Regions from separate parts of the Homo sapiens genome. Here region 2 is linked to region 1. The links come from fine-mapping of genetic effects on gene expression. A gene starts in region 1. The other region holds a variant in brackets. All regions are shown on one strand. Distances are between the middles of the regions. Region 1 holds the start of RNASE6 (ribonuclease A family member 6). Region 2 holds the start of LOC124903282 (a long non-coding RNA gene).

Region 1 (10,250 bases):
GTCTGCAGATGTAGTTTGCTTACCCCTGCATCAACAGTTGTTACCAATATTTGCTGCCCATTACAATTACATGGGGATCTTTAACAAACATCCATTAGAGCCCAGGTCTCACCCCCAGATATTCATTTAATTGTTCATTAAATGTTCATAAAATTTATTTAGTAGATCCCGTCATTGGTATTTTTCTAAAAGCTCCCAGGTGAATCTAATATGAAGCCAGAGTTGAGAGCTGCTAGAACATCTGCTGAATTCACTTCTAAGCTTTGCCTGCTTTGGGATCATTCTGTATATTCTAGGGATATATCTAAGTGAACTTCTTAGCAATTATGTATTGAACTTCTGCAATACATAACTGCATGTAGAAAAGAAAATAAATCTATGAGAGATTCCATCCCAGTCTATTCCACTTGTTTAGAACTAATACCTTCTAAAAGTTTGGGCATAATAGATTGTTGAAAAGTTACCCTCATTGTTGCCTTTTCCTTGATCAGCAACAAAAAGTGACTCTAATTGTTGTTGGGGATAGGTTTGTCATGGGAGGGTGGGGAAGATTAGATATTGTTGCTGCAAATCTCTTCAAAAGATGGCACTCATTATATTTTTGTTTTTAACCATTTGTTACAAAATATTTGCAGTATTTTAGACCTCACAATTTATTTCACTAATTTTAAGTAACATTTCATGTTCCCTAATGTTTCTGACAGTTGAAAAATTTTTGCAGCACAGATGTATTCAATCCATGAGATACCTTTACTATATAAATAACAATAGCATGAGCAATTGAGTTGTTTGGTTTTACTAGATTACCTTTAAGAATCTCTGGCAATTTCCAGGTAATGTTCATATAAATCCATTCAACCCCTTTCCTTTCAGATGCTGCTACTTTCGTATACTTGTTCATACCAAACGTGAGCACAGATTCTCCCTGCCATTCCACCACACTTTACATGAAGACTCTGAGACAATAAAATGTAAATGCAACATGGCTTAAAGCTGAATACAACTGAAAGCTGCTTTGAGTTAGAGCACTCAAGTCCCACTGTAGGATTCCCTCTATAAGGTACCCACCTTCTTAGGTGCCATATTGCCCTGACCTGCTAATCTCTTCCCAATGGGAGGGCCCTTGATCAGTCATCACCCTGGAATCCAGGCTCCTGAAACCTCATATTCCATTCTTTGTTCCTAAGATATGACATAAATGTGTAGCGTAAAGGAAGGTGAGCTGAGTTAGCATATCTATTAAACTAATAGTCTGGCTTGGAAAGAATCATTTGCAGCACAGGTAATGAAGACACTACAATATGTAGCCTTTTCAAAAAAACTTCATTGTCTTTGGCTGCTACTTGAAGACTCATCACTGTACAAAGCACTTGGGATTTACACTGGCCCACTAGCCCAATGACTCTAGAGGTTGACAAGGAAACTGAAGTTCCTTCTGTGAAATGGCTTAGTTCAGGTTCTGTTCCAAAACCCCAATACTTCTGTGGTATTTCAGTATTTACATAGGACTAGAATGTTTTTAGTTTCCTAGTGCTTTTTTCTCTTTCTTTCTTTCCTTTTTTTTTTTTTTTTTTTGAGACGGGAGTTTCGCTCTGTCACCCAGGCTGGAGTGCAGTGGTGCAATCTCGGCTCACTACAGCCTCTGCCTCCCAGGTTCAAGCGATTCTCTTGCCTCAGGCTCCTGATTAGCTGGGATTACAGGCTCCTGCCATCATGTCTGGCTAATTTTTTGTATTTTTAGTAGAGATGGGGTTTCACCACATTGGCCAGGCTGGTCTCAAACTCTTGGCCTCAAGTCGTCTGCCTGCCTCGGCCTCCCAAAGTGCTGGGATTACTGGTGTGAGCCACTGCATTGGGTCTCCTGGTGCTTTTCTCTTTTTCTTTTTTTGTTTTTGAGATGGGAGTCTCACTCTGTTGCCCAGGCTGGAGTGCAGTGACACAATATTTGCTCACTGCAACTTCTACCTCCTGGGTTCAAGCGATTCTCCTGCCTCAGCCTCCCGAGTAGCTGGGATTACAGGCACTGCCACCACGCCCAGCTACTTTTTTTGTATCTTTAGTAGAGATAGCGTTTCACCATGTTGGCCAGGCTGGTCTTGAACTCCTGACCTCAGACGATCCACCTGCCTCAGCCTCCTAAAGTGCTGGGATTACAGGCGTGAGCCACCACGACAAGCCTAGTGCTTTTTTCTTGATCTATGCTTTCTATTTATCCATTTCAATAAATAATGGAGGATTGACCCTAAGGTTACTACAATGGATTATTATCCCTATTACTACTACTATCACCTTATATTTAAAACATTATCTGATTAAAAACGGAAACAAATAGAAAAGACATAGGATCCTTCAGTTGCCAGTGACAGAATCTATGTGTGAGTTATCATCAACTGTCTTTGAGGTATCAGTACTACCTCCAATTAAGCATAGACAATGGTTTCCAGGGGAATATATAAAGTCATGAGCAGAGTTTGAAGAAATGCTCCAAAGTCCCAAACGCTGTCCTTTCTTGTGGGCAAGGAAGTGGGGCCCCAGGGAGGCCTCAAAAGTTTTCTAGGGACTTAAAGTCAAAACAGTGTTCCTCTGAGTACCGGTCAACAATGCTTTGAAAGCGGATCTCAAACACACACTCATTAGAATGCAGCAGGAAGTGGTTTTATTGCTGTGAACACAGGGCAATAAAGCTTGGCAAAAGTTGCAGGGTTAGAAATCTGAATCTTTCTTTGCTGTCTTCCCTATTCCCTTCTCTCGAAAAGTACAGAACTACAAAGCAGAAAATAATCTTATTTCTTTTTGTCTCAACTCTGGTCTGGCATCCTAGGCACTCGAATTCTCCAAACACCTTTCTTCTTTCTTCTACGGGAACAAGAAAATCAACAAAAGAAAAGAAAACATGGATGCAATTGTAACAGAAGCTATGTCAAATGAAAGGAAATGCAGTGGATGCCTTAGAGAATACTATCTAAGTGTACAGGAACCAACTTGTAGGGGGGATCGCTCTTCTGAGGGGGGTCACAGGCAACAATGAAGAATTTGTACTGGGCAGCAGCACTATAGCGGCACTGGGGATACTTTCCTGAAGTGAGTCTGCAGTCAGTCATGTTGACAGGCTTTGAGCTCTGGTGGCAGTTGTGCCGACGATTTTTGCAGACAATGCTGAGCAAATCACAGACAGCAGCCACATTCTGGAAAGAGTCATGCAGAAAGGTATTTTGATGCTTACAGTGCTGGGTATAATTGTTGATGCCACTCATTGCCCTGTTGCATTGGAGAGGACTTGGCTGTATATGCTGAATTTCAAACCAGTGAGCCTTGGTGAGACGCTTAGGCCAAGCATGAAGTGGACACACTGGTCCCCATAGAACCAGCAGCAGTAAAAGAAGAGGAAAGCATAGCACCATCTTTTCTGTGTAGAAAGAGAGAAGATAGTTATAGTAGGAGAAGCAATAAGAGCAAAATTTTTAATCATAACTATTTAGATTTTTATTTTGCCTTTTAAGATTTTACAGCTCCCTTTAAAATCTTCTTTCTCACATAGTCTCACAATTCTATGAAGAACCTGAAGCCCAGGAAACAGAAATATGACCTCTCCTTTGATTGGCATATCCCATTTTCTTTCACAAGTACTCATGCATTTGATGGCTGTCATATCAGAAAGTTTCTTCCCTCTTCCCTCCTGAAATATTTACCCTCTATCTGACCACTACCTCCCAGCCGTCTTTACTGCTCTACTCGCTCCAGCCCTGAGGCTTTCTTTCTTACCTGGTCTCAGTGTTGGGGCTCCTGCTGAGAACAGAGGCTGTGATTAGTCCAAAGCTCAGAAGCTGTTGTCTGCCTTTCTTCTCTAACCCTTCGAGCCCTGTGTGTATAGGGAAGGGGAAGAAATATTCTGAGCTTTCAGAAGGAGAATCCTAGGGTTTGGCAGATTAACTTCTTGTGCAGAGTCTGGATTAAACTCTTAGACTTTCACACCTGTTCTTTAAAACAGTATCATTATCACATGTATACAGGAAGGCTAAACCAACTTAAAGAAACAACATGACTGAAAACTCACAGTTTTGAGGAACTGATCACTTCCTGATATGGAATGAGTGCTTCCTGCCTCATCTGAGGCTTCAGTGTTTTTTTTTGAAGCTTTATGATTCCTGTTTCTTAAGAGAAAATATGTCACATAAATATGATATAATGCCTGCCACATACTTGGTAATGTTGTAAGTTCCTACAACAGAAGTGAATACATTATTCATTTATGCATATACTTATTGGGCCAGGTACTAGGCTACACAAATTCAGGAGCTCATGAGTTTTTTTTTTTTTTTTTTTTGAGACGGAGTCTTGCTCTGTCGCCCAGGCTGGAGTGCAGTGGTGCGATCTTTGCTCACTGCAAGCTCCACCTCCTGGGTTCATGCCATTCTCCTGCCTCAGCCTCCCGAGTAGCTGGGACTACAGGTGCCTGCCATCACGCCCAGCTAATTTTTTTGTATTTTTAGTAGAGACGGGGTTTCACTGTGTTAGCCAGGATGGTCTCTATCTCCTGACCTCGTGATCTGCCAGGAGCTCATGATTTAATGAAAGAGATTAGAGACAGGCAGGTAAGTATATAGACAAGTAGATTATATTAATATAAATAGCACTTACAGTGTGATGGAGGACACTGCAGGAGGCTACGGGAAGATAGTAGAGGGGAAGGATTGTTGGAGGGCACAACACCTGAACTGAATTTTGAGGAATAATTAGAAGTTAGGTGAAGAGAGTGTTAAGCGCCTCCCAAAGACAGAATTGTGTATGAAAAGACCTGTAAGCCTGAAGAAGAAGGCCGAATTTAGGATATTTGCCTCTTGAATCTGTTCTTACCTTTTCACTGGTACTGCAACACCCTTATTCAGAAACTCATTGTCTTATGGAGGGCTCACATAAAAGCCTCCCACATGGACTCCTTGCCTTGTTTTTTTCTCCTTCCAATCCATTCTACATATTACTTCCAGATTAGTCTTTTTTTGAACAAGATATAATAGTACAACACTCTTGCCCCATGCTTTTATGGCTCCAAATGTCTGCAGAATAAACATAATGTCTGTTTATAGCAAGGTTGCAGGATACAAGGTTAATATACAAAAGTCAGTTGCTTTCTTATATACCAGCAATGAACAATTGCAATTTGATATTTAAAACACAATACCATTTATATTGCACCAAAGAAAGTGAAATACTTAGGTGTAAATCTAATACATTATGTAAAAATTGGTATGAGGAAAAATTTAAAACTCTAATGAAAGAAATTGAGGAAGCACAGATATTCCATGTACATGAGTAGGAATACTCAATATGTTAAGATGTCATTTCCTCTCAACTTGATCTATAGATTCAGCACAATCTCAATCAATATCCCAGCACATTATTTTGTGGATAGTGACAAACTGACTCTGAAGTTTATATAAAAGTAAAAGATTCAGGTTGGACACGGTGGCTCACGCCTGTAATCCCAGCACTTTGGGAGGCCGAGGCAGGCTGATCACGAGGTCAAGAGATCAAGACCATCCTGGCTAACACAGTGAAACCCCGTTTCTACTAAAAATACAAAAAATTAGCCAGGCCTGGTGGCGGGCGCCTATAGTACCAGCTACTTGGGAGGCTGAGGCACGAGAATCGCTTGAACCCGGGAGGTGGAGCTTGCAGTGAGCCGAGATCGCACCACTGCACTCCAGCCTGGGTGACAGAGCGAGACTCTGTCTCAAAAAAAAAAAAGATTCAGAATAGTCAACACAATGCAGAAAAAGAAGAACAAAGTCAGAAAACTGACGTGACCCAACTTCAAAACTTACTATAAAGCTACAGCAATTAAGACAGTGTGTTATTGGTGAAAAATAGACAAATAGGTCAATGGAACCAAGTAGAAAGCCCAGAGGTAGACCCACACAAATACAGTGAACTAATCTGTGACAAAGGATCAATTTTCAATTGAGAAAAGTTAGTCTTTTCAACAAATGGTAGTAGAACTGAATGTACACATGCAAAAAATAAATCTTTTCATAGGTTAGACTTCATACATTTTCATAGACCTGTACTTTATATCTTTCACAATTTTTTTTTGAGATGGAGTTTCGCTTTTGTTGCCCAGGCTGGAGTGCAATGGCATGATCTTAGCTCACCACAACCTCTGCCGCTCAGGTTCAAGTGATTCTCCTGCCTCAGCCTCCGGAGTAGTTGGGATTACAGGCATGCACCACTACACCCAGCTAATTTTGTATTTTTAGTAGAGACAGGGTTTCACCATGTTGGTGAGGCTGGCCTCGAACTCCTGACCTCAGGTGATCCGCCCACCTCGGCCTCCCAAAGTGCTGGGATTACAGGCGTGAGCCACCGCGCCTGGCACAAATGTTAATTCAAAATGGACCATAGACCTAATGCAAAATACAAAACTACAAAAATTCTAGAAAATAACATAGAAGAAAATCTAGGCAGCCTTGAGTTTGGCAATGATTTTTTAGATACAATACCAAAAGCACAATCCATGAAAGAAAAATATTGATAAGTGGAACTTCATTAAAATTGAAAACTTCTGCTCTGCAACAGATACTATTAAGAGAATAAAAAGATAAGCCAGAGACTGAGAGAAGATATTTGCAAAAGATATATCTGATAAAAGAACATTATCCAAAATATACAAAGAACTCAAAAAACCTCAACCATAAGAAAACCAACAACCTAGTTGAAAAATGGGCAAAACATCTGAATGGTATGGGGCAAAGACAATTTTTCCTCTCCCTCTGAAGGTTCAAAACTTCTGAAATGAACTGACAATAGACAGATTAACAGGAGAAAAAGGCATACAAATTTATTACTGTGCATAATCATGGGAACCATACAAATTATGAGACTCAAAGAAAGACTAAATAGTTGAAATTCATGTATTCTCTTCATAGGGGAGAGGAACATGGGGAAAATGTAGGCAATTTTGAGGAGTTTTAAATATTTTTTAGGGAACTGGCCCCAAATAGCAGACAATAGTTTGTAAATGAGTCTCTTTGGAAGCTGAATGGAAGGGTGACGAGTTATGGGAAGGTGAAGGGTGGAACTGCACTATGAACAAAGGTTGCCTTATTATACAGATAAAGTCTCTTAGGTACTCTTTTGGAGCTGCTCTTGGAAGAATAGATGAAAGGTCTATCTGAGTGTGGTGTGAAGAGACTTCTAGTCTCTTCTTTTTTTCAGGTGGCTAATATTTCCTGGTTATCTGATGAGATTTTTAGAAAGGGGGGTCTTAAGACAATTGCATTTCTTGGAAGAAGTTTTCCTTATCCAGACAAGGGAACTTCCAGAGAGAGCTCCTCTCTGCATTTGAGAGCTGGGGGAGGAATGAGAGAAGATTAGAACATCTTTGGTCCTGAGGCAGCTTCTAAGAAGTTTTGGTTTCTTTAATTCTTTAATTCTAGTTAAATTTAATTCTTTAATTTAATTTCTTTAATTCAAAAGTGCTCAGAATGCCATGCATCATAGTTTGTAGTATGATTCTCTGTACCCCAACACTTCACCAAACAAGATATACAGATGGCAGATGAGCAATGAAAAGATGTTCAGCATCACATTGTTTGGAGAAAAACTTTTCCTCTATCATTTTAGGTTTTAAAGGTGGTGGTAAAGGAGCTTGTGAATTAGAAAAAGATTAATAGGAGAAAATTCAAAGTTTATTTACACATGCACACAGGAGTATTACATAATGCGTAACTTGCTGAATAGCCAGAGGTAAAGTTATATATCAACTTTAAAAAAAGTGTTTTTGGCCAAGTGCAGTGGCTCATGCCTGTAATCCTAACATTCTGGGAGACTGAGGCAGGAGGATCACTTGAGGCATGGAGTTTGAAACCAACAGCATAGCAAGACCCCCATCTCTATTTTTTAAAAAAAGATTTGGCCGGGCATGGTGGCTCACACCTGTAATCCCAGCACTTTGGGAGGCCAATGTGGGCAGATCACCTGAGGTCAGGAGTTTGAGACCATCCTGGCCAACATGGTAAAACCCCGTCTCTACTAAAAATACAAAATTTAGTCAGGCATGGTGGTGGGCACCTGTAATCCCAGCTACTCGGGAGGCCGAGGCAGGAGAATCTCTTGAACCTGGCAGGCGGAGGTTGCAGTGAGACAAGGTTGCGCCACTGCACTCCAGCCTGGGCAACAAGAGTGAAAGTCTGTCTCAAAAATAAAATAAAATAAAAAATAAAAGATTTTTGTTGGGGCTTCAAAAGGAAAATATGGAAGGTTCTAGTAAGCTTTCTGATGCTAATAGAAATGGGTAGATTGATTTCTTCCTGGCTGGAAGTTTCCCTGTATGGGGGTTTATGGAAGCTAATTTACACATCCCAGTGCTAAGGGGCTGTCTCGTTTCAAACAGGAAAATACCTTTGAAGGGGATCAATGGCAGCTGAATTTTCAAGAGGCTCTGGTTAAGTTTAAATAGTGTTTCTTTCTGCAGCTTCTGTCTGTTCAGACATTTTCAGTTTAAAATAATTTTCATGCCACTATCATCATAACAGATTTGTTACTTGATGCACAACAAATGGATATATTAAGAAAACAGGGATTGAAAAAGAGAGAGTTTAATTTTCATAGGGCAGCCAAATGAGTAGATGGGAGGTAACCTACAATTTGGTTTTGGGTTTGGGGATAGGGTTTTTAAGGAGTCTGGACAAGGGCCAAAATGTGAGCATTTCTGATTCATCAAGAAGTGAGAGGTGAAGTCATGGGACAGGGACATGAAGAAACTCAGCATTCATGTGCCAAGCCAGTTCCTTGGTAGGGGTCTTTAGACTGGTTAGCATTAGCTGTTGCACTGGAATTCAGGATCAGAAAAACACCTTAAGCAATTCTTAAGCAAAAAGATTTCATGATTCTAGTATTGGAGATTCTACCTATAGGAACAATCGGGGAGTAGGTGGTCAGCATGCTACTTGGGAAATTAGAAGCTACAGGGAAGTGGGTTGAAGTGTACCAGCATGCTATGATTAATGTGCAATTCTGCCTAGAGCCTGGCTTGCAACACTCCATAACTCTGCAAGGGCAGTTTTGCCATATTGGTGGGCTGTGAATCCCTTCAATCTGTCATTAGAAAATTGCAAATTAAAACAATGGGATAATACTACACACCTACATGAATGACTAAAATGCAGTGAAAACTGACATCATCAAAGCCAGTAAGGATGCAGAGCAGCAAAAATGCTAATTGACAGGACTTTCAACCTGGAGGCATATTTTGGGGTGACATATTCTTGTTTCCTATGAGACTTCAGTTAGGCTAGCTTGGATCTCATAACCATCGCTTGGCTCAGTAGAGGGGACTGCAGACCTTAGTGGACAGCCTCACCAATACTACACACAAAAGAGGAAGGGTAGATACCTAAGGAGAGTCAATATGCAGCTATCCAAATAAGGGGTGGACCACCGGGAAAGCCAGAGAAACAACACAAAGCTATTACTAATTGCCCTTAAATCTACTTTCCTCCTATACTATTTTGAACAACCATCTGCTAACCCTTTAATAAAAGCAAGTTTTAAAGAGTTACTTAAATGAGGTATTTGTGAGAATCTACTATAGGAGACCAGAATATGCCACCCCAAAATATGCTTCTTTATTATGAATATTATTTTGAACTGCTTATTTTGAGAAGCAGTATACACAAGACAAACTCTGAAAATAGAGTGCACGTTGCTGTTTTGTAAGGGACATTTGCGTTTATAAGGGAAATCTTCATTTGTAAGGATGTCTCCCTTTCTTCACCAGAAAGAGAAAGGTGACTCTAAATCAAAAGAAACCCTTATCAGCGGAGAAGGTACTGACTTAAATCTGCATGAGAAAGCTTTCCCTTGTTTACTGTACTTTTCCTGGTCATCCCCCTGTAAGTTGCTCCCCGACATGCTTCTTCCTTTGCTTTAGCGGAAGGCATTTAAGCCCAAGTTCTAGCCACCTCTTTGAGTTGCTTTCTGAATTTCTCTCATGTATGCATGAGATGCACATGTTACTAAACTTCTATTTTTCTCTTGTTAATCTGACTTTTGTTTCGGTGGCCCCAGCCAAGAACCAAAGGGGTAGAAGGAAAATTTTTTCCTTCCCTACATACATTTTGAAGAGCGTTTGTCAACTGAGAAAAACAAACAGTATTGTTTCTTCTCATATGTATATTGATCCTACATGCAGAGCTACTGGTTTAATACTAGTCTCTTCTGAGTTTGGTTGGTAGAGATTGTCATCCCCAGGT
Region 2 (10,250 bases), 64 kb after region 1:
TGTGTTTGCTGCATGGTTCAATGATGCCCTCACAGTTGTGGAGAGTTTGGTCAAAGTCACTCTGTATGGATCTCAGATAAAGTTGTACAACATTGAGCCAGGTGCGGTGGCTCACGCCTGTAATCCCAGCACTTTGGGAGGCCGAGGTGTGTGGATCACAAGGTCAGGAGACTGAGACCATCCTGGATAACATGGTGAAACCCTGTCTCTACTAAAAACACAAAAAATTAGGTGGGCACGGTGGCACGTGCCTGTAGTCCCAGCTATTCGGGAGGCTGAGGCAGGAGAATCACTTCAACCAGGGAGGGAGAGGTTGCAGTGAGCTGAGAACGTGCCACTGCACTCCAGCCTGGGCAAGAGAGCAAGACTCCGTCTCAAAAAAGAAAAAAAAAAATTGTGCAACATTGAAACTGATGTGCCATCAGTATTGAAACCTGACCTCATTGATGTACGTGCTCAGTCCCTGGCTGTGCTGCAGGCTTACACTCACTGGTTAGTGCAGTATTGCAGTGAAGCTCACCAGCAGAACACACAGCAGTTCGTGACACTCATCCCTATTACCATGAATGCAATCACACCTCTAATCAGCACCAAGTTCTCGAAGCAGCAAAGCCTACCGTCTACACCTTTTATCTAACTCTGTCTCTCCTTCTGTTCCTATACCCATTTATTAGAAAATCTAAATATGACACAGAGTTAGACCCATAAATCTTTCCGCTTTATAAAACTGTTATTTCATCTTCCTTTTTACTTGTAGCCCACATGCATTCAAATACAACTTTACTTTTTTGGTTATATAAGTTCCACATGCTCACTGTGAAAAACCAAAATATTGTTCAGATTTCCAGACTAAAAAGTTGTGATACCTTTGAAACATTTTCCTTCAGGCGGTACACACAGTTGGGCATTGGTTGTGCAGGCACACCTCGTTTTGTTGTGTTTCCCTTTATAGCACTTCGTAGATACTGTGTTTTTTACAAGTTGAAGGCTTATGGCAACCCTGCATTGAGCAAATCTGTCAGCGCCATTTTTTCAACAGCATTTAGTGCTTCCATGTGTCACATTTTGGTAATTATTAGAATATTTCAAACTTCTTCTATGACTATATCTGACAGTAATTTGTGGTTAGTGATCTTTGATGTTACTATTGTAATTATTTTGGGGTGCCACAAACTGAAGATGGCAAACTTGATTGATAAATGTGTGTGTTCTGACTGCTCCACTGATTGGCGGCTTCCCCACCTTCCTGTCTTTAGGACTCCCTATTCCCTGAGCCATTTAGTAACCCTACAATGACCTCTATGTGTTCAAGTGAAAGGAAGAGTCACATGTCTCTTACTTTAAAAATCTAGAAATGATTAAGCTTAGTGAGGAAGGCGTGTCAAAAGCTAGGATAGGCCAAATGCTGTTGAGCCAGTTAGTCAAGTTGCGAATGCAAAGGAAAAGTTCTTGAAGGAGATTAAAAGTTCTGCTCTAGTGAACACACAAGTGATAAGAAAGCAGAACAGCCTTATTGTTGTTGACACGGGGAAAATTTCAGTGGTTCGGATAGACCAAACCAGCCACAACATTCTCTTATGCCAAAGTCAAAACCAGATCAGGCCCTTCAATTCTCTGAAAGCTGAGAGAGGTGAGGAAGCTACAGAAGAAAAGTTGTAAGCCAACACAGGTTGGTTCGTGAGGTTTAAGGAAAGAAGCCATCTCCATAACATAAAAGTGCAGGATGAAGCAGCAAGTCCTGAGGAGAAGCTGCAGCAAGTTCTCCAGAAGCTCTAGATAAGATCATTGATGAAGGTGGCCACACTAAACAACAGATTTTCAGTGTAGATGAGACAGCTTTATAGTGGAAGAAGGTGCCATCTGGGACTCCCATAGCTAGAGAGGAGGAGTCAGTGCCTGGTTTCAGAGCTTCAGAGGGCAGGCCAACTCTCTTGTCAGGGGGCACCTGCCACTGGAGACTTCAGGTTGAAGCCAGTGCTCATGTATCATTTGAAAATCCTAGGGCCCTTAGGAATTATGCTGAATCTACTTTGCCTGTCTCTATAAATGGAACAACAAAGCCTGATTGACAGCACATCTGTTTACATCATGGTTTACTGAATATTTTAAGCTCATTATTGAGACCTGCTCAGAAAAAAAAGATTCCTTTCAAAATACTACTGCTGATTGGCAATGCACTTGGTTACCTAAGGCCTCTGATGGAGATGTTCAAAGATATTAATTTCCATAGTTTCCATGCCTGCTCACACAACATCCGTTCTGCAGTTCTGCAGCCCATGGATCAAGGAGTAATTTTGGCTTTCAAGTCTTATTACTTCAGAAATACATTTCATAAGACTATAGCGGTCATAGATAGTGGTTCCTCCAATGGATCTGGGCAAATAAATTGAAAATATTAATTCAAATAATGGAACTCATTTCACTGCACATATCATTAAGAAATTAGCCCAAGCACTAGACATAACGTGGGAATACCATACTCCTTGGCACCCACCTTCATCGGGAAGAGTAGAAAGAATAAATCAAACCGTGAAGAGTCACTTAACCAAATTAGTCTTAAAGACTCAGTTGCCATGGACTAAATGCCTTCCCATTGCCTTGCTAGGAATCTGAACCACCCCTCAAAAAGATGTTGGCCTATCCCCATATGAGATGCTATATGGGTTGCCCTATTTACACTCCACTGCTGACATTTCCACCTTCGAAACAAAAGATCAGTTTCTCAGACATTATATACTTGGTTTATCTTCCACTTTCTCTTCCCTTAGAACTAAAGGTCTTTTAGCACAGGCACCATCCCTGGAGTTCCCAGTACATCGAAATCAGCCCGGGGATCAAGTCCTCATCAAAAACTAGAAGGAGGAAAAGCTGGAACTGGCCTGGGAAGGACCTTATCTAGTGCTCCTAACTACTGAAAGCGCAGTCCAGACAGCAGAAAAAGGATGGACCTATCACACCCAAGTCAAGAAAGTGCCGCCCCCTCCAGAGTCGTGGGCCATAGTCCCAGGGGAAAACCCTACCAAACTAAAGCTAAGAAATTTTTTTTTTTTTTGAGACAGAGTCTTGCTCTGTTGCCCAGGCTGGAGTGCAGTGGTGCGATCTTCACTCACTGCAACCTCCACCTCCCGGGTTCGAGCAATTCTCCCGCCTCAGCCTTCCGAGTAGCTGGGATTACAGGCGTGTACCACTACGCCTGTATAATTTTTGTACTTTTAGTAGAGATGGGGTTTCACCATGTTGGCCAGGCTGGTCTTGAACTCCTGACCTCAAACGATCCACCTGTCTCGACCTCCCAAAGTGCTGGGATTACAGGCGTGAGCCAAGCTAAGAAAAATTTAACTCTCTTATTACTCCTTCTTCTTTCCTCATTCTATTGCTGACCACCTCATTATTAATGTAACAAAGTCAATTTCACCTCAAACTATTACATTTGATGCTTGCCTTGTTATACCTTGTGGAGACTTGTCAAGTTAAAGACAGCTCTCCAATTCAGAAAAGTACCTCTGTCCTTCCCGGCTCTCCTCAGACTGGACATTAGTGAATGGGGATCATTTAGTCTGGAGAGATTTCAATAAAGACCCCAGTATCAGCTGGGAGTCTTGCTCCTGCAAGACAGAGCTTTTATGCCACAGTTGGTCCAACATTCTGTGGACCACTAAAGAGCAAGGATGAGCTGCCCCAACCAGTGGTTGTAATTTCCTAAAGTCATATATTCACTTTACTAAAGGAACAGCTTCACCTAGCTGTCAGCTGAACCGTGCAATCCAATACAGGTTATTATCTCAAACCCTCAAAGCTCTTCCCCTTCTCTAAGCCGGTTCCCTTCTTTAAGCCGGTTTTATGGTGTGGGGGCTGAGGTTTCAGGAACAGACCCTATCAGATCCTTTGAAACACAATTCATTGATCCTCTGCCGCCTACACCTTCCCTTAAGCCTTCTTCCAGAAGCTCTCACAACAAAACTGTTGTTCTCCTCCATCTAATGACAAGACCAAGGTAGTTATTATAGAAGTTAAAGACCTAAAACAAACTTTGGCAATTGAGACAGAATATCAAGATGCTAATGCCTGGTTGGAGTGGATCAAACATTCCATCCACACTTTAAACAAAAGCATTTGTTATGCTTGTGCGCACGGCAGACCAGAAGCCCAGATTGTCCCCTTTCCATTAGGATAGTCCTTTAGTCTACTAGGCATGGGCTGTATGGTTACTTTTTTCCAGGATTACACAGCCTGGGGTAAAAAGTCGTGTCAAGCTCTCTCTGCTATATCCTGAGGTTCAATACCCTGCAGGTCAGCCCCCAAGGTCCACTCAGCTTCTGTCCCCTGACGCTAAGTTCACTTCATATCTCTCACTACAGGGAGGAAACTTAGCATTCCTTGGAGACCTAAAAAGATGCAGTGAGCTTAAGACTTTCCAAGAGCTTACCAATCAGTCAGCCCTTGTTCATCCCCAAGCATATGTATGGTGGTATTGTGGTGGACCTTTACTGGACTCTCTGCCAAGTAACTGGAGCAGCACTTGTGCTCTAGTTTAATTGGCTATCCCTTCCACCCTAGCATTTCATCAACCAGAGAGAGGAAAAATACAACATCATAAAACAAGGGAAGCTCCTTATGGGTCTTTCAACTCCCACATTTATTTAGATGCAATTGGAGTCCCATGAGGAGTACCAGATAAATTTAAAGATCAAGATTAAATAGCTGCAGGATTTGAGTCAAGATTAAATAGCTGCAGGATTTTGTGGGTGACAATTAATAAAAACATAGATTGGATAAATTACGTCTATTATAATTAGCAGTGGTTTATTAATTACACCAGGGATGCTGTCAAAGGGATAGCAGAACAATTGGGGCCCACTAGCCAGATGGCCTGGGAAAACAGAATGGCCCTAGATGTGATATTAGCTGAAAAAGGCAGTGTTGGTGTTATGATTAAAACTCAGGGCTGTACCTTTATCCCAAGCAACACTGCCCCCACTGGGAGCATAACAAGGGTCTTACAAGGACTTACTGCTTTATCCAATGAATTAGTTAAAGATTCTGGAGTCAATAACCCTTTCTCAGGATGGCTAGAAAGGTGGTTCAGTAGATGGAAAAGATCATAGCCTCGATTCTTACTTCTCTTGCAGCCGTAATAGGTGTACTCATTCTTGTTGGGTATTGTGTCATACCATGCGTCCGTGGGGCAGTGCAAAGAAACAGCACCTACTAAAACCTCCCTTAACTTTCCTCCACCTTATTCAGAAAAGCTTTCTTCTTTTAGAGGATCAAGTCAAGCAGCAAAGCCAAGACATGTTAAAAAGGTTTGAAGAGGAAGGCCTATGAAAATTGAAAGGGGGGAGATTGTAGGATACAGTAAATTCCTCTTCAGAGTTAGCCTGTTAACTTCCTTTAAAATTCAAGATGGTGGCTGGGCGTGGTGGCTCATGCCTGTAATCCCAGCACTTTGGGAGGCCAAGGCAGGCAGAACATGAGGTCAGGAGATTGAGACCATCCTGGCTAACATGGTGAAACCCTGTCTCTACTAAAAAATACAAAAAAATCAGCCGGGCGTGGTGGCGGGTGCCTGTAATCCCAGCTACTCAGGAGGCTGAGGCAGGAGAATGGCGTGAACCCAGGAGGCGGAGCTTGCAGTGAGCCTAGATTGCACCACTGCACTCCAGCCTGGGTGACAGAGCAAGACTCCATCTCAAAAAAAAAAAAAAATTCAAGAGGGAGAAAAAAATCATTTAAGTACAATGAGTTCTGAGTTCCTCTTCAAAGAACAAATACGTCAGTATGTTCAGCTTCCCTGTTCTTTGTTCTCCATTTTGAAGTTTAACTTCCTTGTTCTTTACACCTCCTTGCCTCTAGTTTCAGTAAACAACCCCCTCCTAGCCTCTATCACCTGTTCTGTCCTTAGGCATCCTTACTCTCCTGTTCTGTAACTGTCCTTCCCTGAT[G/A]AAACTACTCACCCCACCACTCCAGCTCATACACTCACTCTCTTTAAAATTTCCAACTGGAATTAGCTTAGACTGTGTGGTCCAACCCTAGCCAACAGGGGAAAGACACAGCAGTAGGGACTAGCTGCATTAGGAATAAGACGCCCTTCTCCTCCCTTGTCTGGTGTGCTCTCACCATTGCTCCATCTGAGAGATGCACCCTTCTATAGAAGTAAATTGCTTTGCTGAGAAAATTTTTGCCTGAGTGCTATTTTCACTCTGTGGCACCGAGCACTTACTTCCAACAGTTTGGTTACATTTTTTATCACCCAGCATGGGGCTATATGTCTCTACTGGTCTAGCGTGCCTGGTTTCCGATGGATGGAGCAATTGGCTGTGGCATCATGCCAGGGCTTACTCATTCATGCTACCAGGCAGAGCAACAACTTCTCATGAGGATTAGCTGCTCGTGGCTAGCTGACCTCCCAGCTGGGATTCTAGGGTTGTCCCAGCAGCTGCCAAGAACATCTTTTCCCTCCTTCCCCCTCTGTGGCATCAGCTGCCTGCAATGCTTTATTAGTATAAGGAAAATGATAGTTGAGGAAGTTGACAGGATTCAAGACTGGGTAAATCAAACCAGTTTGCATGCTAGAAATCCTCTGTCTCTGCCATTTGGGCTTTATGCCATTTGGACCTGACACAGGTCTTTTGCAGTATCAGTTAGCCTAAGATTTATTAACTTCCCAGTCTCCTTCTACAGGAATTGGTTCAGGAGTACTCTGTGTTGATCTGTGTGTTTGTGTTCTTTTGATCTCTCCCCTGAGAATGGGCAACTTGACTTCCATTCCATCTAAGTGGCCATTGGGCTGTATATTGGCTTATTGGAAAGCTTATAGCTATGAACTCATAACAAAAAAGATAATGATTTTTTTTCATTGTAACACTGTTTGGCCTATGTATGTGTTGGAATCTGAAAAATGGTGGCTACTGAACAGTGATTTACATTAGTACACCTTATTACAGTTGGCGTTATTTTGCCTAAGATCTGGGAAATGAAATGAGATTCCATGTGTTTAAGCATTTATTACATAACAAAGACTCAGCACATGAGGGGTCTATGTGAATGACGTAGAGAAAAGGGAAAAAGAGATTTCTCTTTCCAGATAGTAAGACCCAAAAGGAAGAGGATATTGATGATATGGGCCTCATAAATATCTTAAATTTCCCCTCCCATGTGGTACTGGGGGCACCAGCCCTCCCAGGATTACCAAATGTAGCCCAGGACCCGGAGAGGCCAAGGTGTCAGCTCCTCTCCCCAGGATGGGGAAGGAATAGAAATGGCTGCTCCACTTGCAGATTTTACTTGGGACCCCAACAATGGAGGAATGGCCCTGTCCAGTCATTATAAAAAGCATGTGTTGGCAGGGTTAAAGAGAAGAATGTAAAAGAGCTTAAATAAAGCCAGGGCAGTTCTCCCAAAGGCAGATGAGAACCCCTGTGAATTTCTGGAGTGCATTTACCAGGTTTACCACAAGTGTATGGACTATGATCCAGAAGCTCCTGAGAATATGAGAATGGTAAACGTGACTTTCATCCAATATTAAACGAAAACTGCAGAAACTGGAGGGGGTATTTGGAATAAACCTTTCCCAACTGCTGGACATTGCCTTCAGAGTATATAATGCCAGGAAGGCCAAAAAGCTAAAGCAAGCCATGATATACTTGGAATTAGTGGAAAGAATGTATATCCGAAAAGGAAAAACCAGGCACAGGGAGGTGGCCAGAACAAAACTCTAGGTAATGATCAGTCTGCCCCCTGCAAGGAGGAAGGTCATTGGAAATCTGAGTGCCCCAAATTAAAGAAAAGACAGGGAAACCAGAAGAAGGGAGACACAGTGACAGAGAAGAAACATACTGGCTGATGGTAAAGCAGGACTGTAGCTCAGATAGTGAAGGAGGCCCAAATCTTTTGGAGCAGGTTGTAATTTCCCCACAGGAACCTCAGGTACGATTGACAATGGGGAACAAATTGATTGACTTTTTAATCAATACTGGTGTGACTTATTCAGGTAGAAACACTAAAGAAACTGAAAGTACTAGGAAAACAGTGCCTGTGATGGTTGTCGCTGGCAAGATGCAGCAAACAGCCTTTCTCCAGACCCTGGAGAGTCTGGAGACTGCCGGACACAGAGATCTGGAGCTGAGACACAGTTTCCTCTATATGCTGGAATACCAAATTCCTTTGCTGGAGTGAGATTTGCTTTGTAAACTAAATTGCCATGTGACGTTTTTCTCCAGAAAAACAACAACTTCATCTGCAGGTCCTGCCAGAGCAAGCTTTGCAGCTGCAGATGCTGCTCACACACCCCGAGGAAGAAAAAGAATGCCTCCTGCCAGCAATCTGTGAGCAAGTAAGTAGTCATGAGGGCAGATGGGACCACAGGTAGTGCTGAAAATACACAGCCTGTGTGCACAGAAATAAATGAAGGGGCTAAGGTATTCCCCAAACACAGTGCCCTCTAAAAAGAGAGGCTTTAGAGGGGATACAACCTATATTACAGAAGTTTCTAAAAAATGGACAAATATGTCCTTACAGATCTCCATACAATGCCCCTATCCTGACTGTTAAAAACCCACACTCAAATGAATATTGATTTGTACAAGATTTGGGAACCATTAATGACATTGTTCAAGACATTCACCCAACTATGCCCATCCTTTACACCTTACTAACTGATAAACCAGGGCAGTATGGGTAGTTTTCGGTATTAGACTTAAAAGATACTTTTTTTTTTTTTTTTTTTTTTGCATCCTGATTGAAGAGAGGGACCAGATGCTGTTCACCTTTGAGTGGCAAGACCTGGAAACAAAAAACACCTTCCAATATTGTTAGGCTGTATTTTCTTAAGGTTTTAAAAACTCACCCACCATCTTTGGCAAAATATTGGCAAAGGGCTTCAGAGATTTTCAACTAGATGATGGGGTTCTGCTAAAATACTTGGATGACTTGTTAATCGCAAGCCAAGACTATGAGAGGTGCCTATCTAACACTATCTTAATCTTAAATTATTTGATATAATACGGACGTAACATATCACCTCAGAAAACTCAGATTTGTAAACAAGAAGTGACCTATCTTGGCTTCTGACTAAAAACAAGGAAAGCAGAGCTTGATGTCCAACCAGAAACAGGTGATAGCAGCAATAAAGGCCCCTGGGAATGGAAGACACTGTGGGGGGTTTTAGGTGTGGCAGGTTTCTGCTGAATCTGAATCCCTAATTTTGGACTCATAGTCAAACCTCTCTACAAGGCTCTAAAGGGATTAGATTCAGGAGCCCTAAACTGGATGGCTGAATGCCTTCAGGCATTTGATACCATCAAAAAAAAAAAAAAAAATAGTGTCAGCTCCAGCATTAGGACTGCCCAATTCTTGAAAGCTATTTAGACTCTATATCCATGAAAACCAGGGCACAGGACAGGAAATACTAATTCAACTACGTGGGAATTCCCCACAACCCATAGCCTACTTTCCCAAACAACTGGAGCAGATTACCAGAGGATGGCCACCTTGTCTTCAGGCCGTGGCAGCTACGTGTGATATCTTACAGGAAGCAGAAAAATTCACCCTAGGACAGCCCATTACTGCATTTGTGCCTTATCAAGTGTTAACCTTATTGTAACAAAAGGGAGGTTACTGGATGATAGCGGGGCATATGGGCAAATACCAAGCCAGCCTATTAGATAACAGAAATGTTTTCTCCAAACCACCACAGTCTTGAATCCTGCCACCTTGCTCCCAGCCACTGAGTCCAACTATGAACTGGAGCATAATTGTTTAGAAATTCTTGATGCAGTCTATTCCAGCAGACCAGATCTGTCAGATCATCTGATGGCCACTCCGGACTGGGAGCTATACACTGACTGAAGCAGTTTCACAGAAGGAGGACAACGCCAGGCCAGGTATGCTCCAGTGACCCTAGACAAAGTAGTAGAAGCCTATGTCCCCGCTGCTGGTACTTCAGCACAAAAAGCTGAATGGATTGCTCTCATCAGGGCCTTAAAACAGTCTCAAGAGAAATGGGTAAACATTTACACCTACTCCAAGTATGCCTTCTTGGTAGTGTATGCCCGTGGGGTCATTCAGAAAGAAAGGGGATTCTTAACCTCAAGAAATAAAGACATTAAACACCTGCTGGAAATTTTAGCTTTGTCAGAGGCAGTTGTTCTGCCAACTCAAGTTGCTATTATGCACTGCCAAGGCCACCAAAAGGATGACTCCCCAATAACCAAAGGGAATCAAGTGGCTGATAAAGCTGCAAAGCAGGCCAC

What was found.
Region 2: its variant is fine-mapped to the expression of RNASE6 in whole blood (TOPMed, PIP above 0.99). The same link has a PIP of 0.9 or more in blood mononuclear cells.

Annotation. Positions count from the first base shown.
Region 1 is chr14:20,774,851-20,785,100 of GRCh38, reverse strand. RNASE6 (ribonuclease A family member 6) reads right to left here and starts at 3,833. Exons shown (of 2, transcript NM_005615.5): 1 at 3,763-3,833; 2 at 2,634-3,406. The coding sequence starts at 3,401. The coding sequence ends at 2,949. The region is part of intron 1 of LOC107984671 (a long non-coding RNA gene); the gene reads left to right. RefSeq lists enhancers at 2,689-2,758, 9,563-10,166.
Region 2 is chr14:20,711,163-20,721,412 of GRCh38, reverse strand. LOC124903282 (a long non-coding RNA gene) reads left to right here and starts at 5,690. Exons shown (of 2, transcript XR_007064061.1): 1 at 5,690-8,332; 2 at 9,695-10,250. It also overlaps the pseudogene RANBP20P. The variant G/A (reference allele first, on the strand shown) is at 5,943.